Linked DNA regions of Homo sapiens: region 1 is linked to region 2. Evidence: fine-mapped expression QTL. Tissue or cell type: monocytes. Region 2 holds a variant in brackets; the other region holds the start of a gene. All regions are shown on one strand. Distances are between the middles of the regions.

Region 1 (2,500 bases), 47 kb before region 2:
CAGAAGAATTCTAGTTGCTGCAGATGGAAGCAGGAGGGGAGACTCTTTTAGAACCAAACGAAGAGAGGAAGAAAAAAACTTTTAAGAAAAAAAGAAGAAAACTTCAGAAGGTCTCACGTCCTCCGAGCTCAGCGGACTTCATTAGACTTTCATAAAGTCCAAAGTCGGGGAGACAGGGCACTAGGGGGCTGATGAGGACCCAGCGGGAGAGAAGCTGGCTGCCCCTTCTGCAGCCCCGCCCCTCCTCTCATCACCATGGAGACGGAGCAGGCTGCCCAGTGGGGTTCCTGCCCACCCGAGGCCTGAGGCTGCTGCAGAGGGAGGGGCAGGGGCTGAGCAGACAGGGACCTGTCTGGAAAGCTGGGTTGGCGGTGGGGAGTGTCTACATCCCCCCAACTCCCAAGGCGCTGAGGGATTCGGGCTGGTGTGGGATGCATCTGGAGGGCTGTGTTTTGATCCTCGCTCTGCTAGCAGCTTGCTGAGTGACCGTGGGAAGAACGCTTCCCCTGGTGAAGCCTCAGGTTCTACATCTGCCAAAGGAAGGAGTAAAAATGTACAAAAACAGAAGCTTGGATAAGAAAGCTGTGGGATGAGGAAGCAATGAAATATTTAATGCTGGAGAAGAACATTTGCTACCTATTGTTTCTCGAAAAAAGGGAACTTTACCAAACTGACCAGGTGATCCCATATTGGTTAACAAACAAACATGGACTCTCTACCTATGCTTACCAACAAAAGAGGGAGAAAAGAAATACTCTAAAATACACTTTGGCTTGTCTCCGGAAGAGGGAGTTATATGTAATTTGTATTCTCTTGTTTCTTTCTCAAATTTTGGCCAATAAACATGGGTTACTTTTAAAATCAGGATAACATTAATAGCTAGCATTTGGATATTTATTTTGCACGGGCAGTATGCTAAATGCTTTACGTGGTTTTAAGCTCATTTTATCTTCTCCACAATCCAGAGAGGGAGCAGTACTATGTATTTCTCTTCTGCAGAAGAGAAAACCGAGGTTCAGAGAGGTTAAAGGGCTTGCCTGAGGTCGGACCACTAGAGAATGACAGGGCTAAGATTTAAAACCATAGCCAAGATACTAGACTCTAAAATGTGAGCATTGAATCATTACCACTACTGCCTCTCAGGACAAGAAAACACGAAAGCATCTGTTTTCTTAAATGTTTTACTATCAAAAATACAAAAGAAATCAAAAGTAGAAAGAAAAATATGAATCCTTATGTCTGTGCCACCCACCTTCAAGGGAGTCTGTAGATGGGGGCATTTGGGTGGGGACACAGAGCGGGGAATGGGGTGCCTAGGGAGGGGAACCAATCTACACACACACATACACACACGCACGCCCGCGCACACACACGCATGCATACATGGACATGCGAGCCTCCCAGGCTGCACTTCTCCCTGCCTGTGGGGCCCTAACCACAATGGAAAACCACAGCGGCCCTCCCTCTTTCCCACCCTCACCAGGTTCCTTCCTCCTTTCCACATTCTACTGACTTGCATTTCCCCAGCCGACTCTTTTATAGCTCCCTGGTTCAACCTCAAGGCCTTGAGGTTTTGGCAGCTCTGGAGGATGAGAGAGAACATGGCCAGGGGCCCTTGCAACGCGCCGAGATGGGCGTCCCTGATGGTGCTGGTCGCCATAGGCACCGCCGTGACAGCGGCCGTCAACCCTGGCGTCGTGGTCAGGATCTCCCAGAAGGGCCTGGACTACGGTAACTGGATGCCTCCCTTCCCTCCTCTCCACCCCTGAGGAGCACTTACTTAGCATCTACTGTGTGCACCCCTTTAGATCCAGCACCTGGCACACTCATAGCACCTCAGGGCAGGTCCCCTTGCCCCCATTTTATATATGAAGAAACTGAGGCAAAGCGAGTTGCCTAAGATTGCAGGGCTGGGATGGCAGAGCTGGGATTGGAGCACTGGTCTAGAGGACTCCAAGTCCAGTGCTCAGACCCCTGAGGGTCCTCATGGTCCCCTCCTTCCCTCTATGTAACCTCCACCTTTGACTTATAAGCCCTTCTCTTCTTTCCAAAGCCAGTTCTCAGCCTTGCCATTTGCCTCTCGTTGCTGAGGAGGCTGAGCAGGGTCAGAGGGAGAGTGTGGGAGGACCTCCCCACCCCGTGCTCTCCCCACTGCAGGGGCTGGCGGCCATACTGTGCACAGTGCTCCACTGGGTGACACAAAGAGGGTCCCCCCAGACCACTCACCCCAGCCCAGGCAGAGGAGAGAAAGACCTGCTCTAACCTGTGCCAGGCATTGAGCTAGGAACTTTACACACACAGTCTCTTTTACCCTCACTTCAGCCTTGTGTAAGACAAACTGCTGCTATCCACATTTACACGTGAGAAGTGGGCAGCCTGGATTTGAGCTCTGGTCTTGCCTGATGCCCCAGCACGGGGTTGCTCGATGCTGCCTCCCGATGGCAGAGAGATGACCTGCAAAACAGTGGGTGACACCCAGCCCCAGGGAAATCAGACCAAG
Region 2 (2,757 bases):
CCTTCAGAGTGCTCATCCAAGATCCAATCTGGCCACTAGATATAGTTTGGAAGAGAAGATAGACCTTACACTTTAAATGTAGTAGCCCAACGGTTAGAGCTGAAGTTTGTACTTGGGGGAGTCAGGGAAGGCTTCCAGGAGAAGGTGGCATTTGAGCCAAGTCTTCAAAAGATTACTAGACTTGAGCAGCTGATGCTTTAAAAGAGCGTGAACTGCTTTTTGAGGGATGGGCAGTGAAGAAACGACAATCAGACTCGTAGCACATTGTACCCCTCCCTGCTCACTGCTGTTGGGCGTTTCCTTCATTCCTGCCTTCTTTTATTCAGTCCATCAGCAAAAATCTATTGGGCACCTACTATGTGCCCGGCAAATAAAATAGAACTTGACCGTTCTTTTCCCACTGTGACAACCTTGCTGACTTTTTTGGGGTCTTATCTTAAGGCTGCCACCATCTTCCCTGAATCTGTTTCCCCCCTACCTGGATGTATTGAGAGAGAGGAGGGTTAGCAGGAACTGCAAACCCAAAGGGATATGTCTACGGACCTTCTCAGGATGCCACCGGGGGTCATTAGATTCATGGGTTCTGATGCAGACTGCAAAACCGTGAGCAATTGCATCCCTTCCTCAAGGTTCTATTTCCCCCTTTGTGGAAAGGGAGCAAGAACACTGCTGACCCCTTCAGTGTGGCCCATATGGCATGAAGAAAGTAACGTGCTTAGCATGGTCATAAGATCGATGCCTGGGGCACAGCAGGTGCTTACCTGGAGCAGATCCTGCTGGTCTAGTCCCCACTGTGGAGAGGGGAGGCGCAAGGTCCCTGGTGAGGCTGGGTCCAGGCCCAGGGCTGACACCTCCTTCCATGTCTCTCCCTTCAGCCTGAACATCCACAGCTGTGAGCTGCTTCACTCTGCGCTGAGGCCTGTCCCTGGCCAGGGCCTGAGTCTCAGCATCTCCGACTCCTCCATCCGGGTCCAGGGCAGGTGGAAGGTGCGCAAGTCATTCTTGTAAGTTGGCTCTGCTCCCAGGCCCTGGAGCTCTTGGCCTTGGCCTTCGCCCCATCCTTCTTAGGTCCAAGGTGTTCCTAGCTTATCAGAAAGGCCACGTGATGGACAGATGGAGTCCAAGCCCGGAGGTGGCCTGGGGATTGAGTCCTGGCTCTTGGATGAGTGTCTTTCTGTCTCTGAGTCTCTACTTCCTCATCTCCCAAAGGGGACGGGCCTGCTTCCTTGATGGAGTCATGGGAGGGCTAAGTGCGGTAATATCATGTCTCCTTGGTTTGCTTCCCACAGAAGCAGACTTTAGGGCAAGAATTCCAGTGCAATACTTTATCTTGGAAGCGATCTGAGGAAACCCACAGGGGAGTGGGGAAGTGAGGAAGGGAAGGGAAGGGAAGGAAGTCAGCCTGGTGGGCAAGTGAAGCTCTGTCTAGCTGGGGAACTCAGGGACAG[C/T]GGAGAACACGCCTCTGAGTTACTCCAGCCCCACGCTGTCACCCCGTCCTCCTGCTTGCCATTGGCCAAGGGCTGCTTCCAGGGGCTCTGGCTCTCAGGCACTTTGAACAGTTCTCTGACCTCAGAGGCACTTGGATGGAAGGGGTATTCATGTGCTAGGGCTGCCATAACAAGCATAGACTGGGTGGCTTAAGCAGAAATGTGTTTTCTCACAGTTCTGGAGGCTGAGGGCCAAGGTCAAGGTTTTGGCAGGCCTGGTTTCTTCTGAGGCCACTCTCTTTGGCTTGCAGATGGCTGCCCTTTGGCAATGTCCTCACGTGGTCTTTCCTCTGTGCTCAAGAAATCCCATTTCTGAGGCCATGCACGTTGGCTCACCCCTGTAATCCCAGCACTTTGGGAGGCTGAGGCGGGAAGATCACTTGAGGTCAGGAGTTCAAGACCAGCCTGGCCAACATGGCAAAAATCAGTCTCTACTAAAAATGAAAAATAAATTAAAAATTTAAAAATTAGCCAGGTGTGGTGGCAGGTACCTGTAATCTCAACTACTCAGGAGGCTAGACAGAAGAATCGTTTGAACCCTGGAGGCAGAGGTTGCACAGAGCTGAGATCATGCCACTGTACTCCAGCCTGGGGGACAGAGCGAGACTCCATCTCTAAAAAAAAAAAAAAAGAAAAAAGAAAGGAAAGAAACCCCGTTTCTCTCTGTATGTCCTAATCTCTTTTTATAAAGACACTAGTCACATTGGATTAGGGCCCACCCTAATGGCCTCATTTAAATGTAATCACCTCTTCAAAGGGCCTATCTCCAATACTGTGACATTCTCAGGTACTGGGGATCAGAGCTTCAACATCTGAATTTGGGAGGCAGGTGGTGACACAGAGCAGCCCATAGCAGAAGGAACAGCCCAAATATGGGTGATATGACCATATTTATACTTCAGACCTGCACTGCCTAAAATAGAAGCCACCAGCCATGCCTTTACTGAGTACTTGAAAAGTGCCTGGTACAAGTTGAGATCTACTCTAAGTATGCAACACTGGATTTGAAGATTTAGGATTAAAAAACAAACAAACAAACAAAAAAACAGCAGCTGAGCACGGTGGCTCATGCCTGTAATCCCAGCACTTTGGGAGGCTGAGGCAGGTGGATCATTTGAGGTCAGGAGTTCAAGACCAGCTTGGTCAACATGGTGAAACCCCATCTCTACTAAAAATACAAAAATTAGCTGGGCGTAGTGGCGCATGCCTGTAATCTCAGCTACTTAGGAGGATGAGACAGGAGAACCGCTGTAGCCTGGGAGGCGGAGGT

The links. PIP is the estimated chance that this variant, and not a neighbour inherited with it, causes the effect.
Region 1: BPI starts here. The variant in region 2 is fine-mapped to the expression of BPI in monocytes (Fairfax 2014, PIP 0.92).

Annotation. Positions count from the first base shown.
Region 1 is chr20:38,302,623-38,305,122 of GRCh38, forward strand. BPI (bactericidal permeability increasing protein) reads left to right here and starts at 1,534. Exons shown (of 15, transcript NM_001725.3): 1 at 1,534-1,731. The coding sequence starts at 1,602.
Region 2 is chr20:38,349,936-38,352,692 of GRCh38, forward strand. LBP (lipopolysaccharide binding protein) reads left to right here. Exons shown (of 15, transcript NM_004139.5): 3 at 876-1,004. Among named protein-coding and RNA genes, the nearest start is that of LBP, 4.8 kb to the left of the region's middle. The variant C/T (reference allele first, on the strand shown) is at 1,449.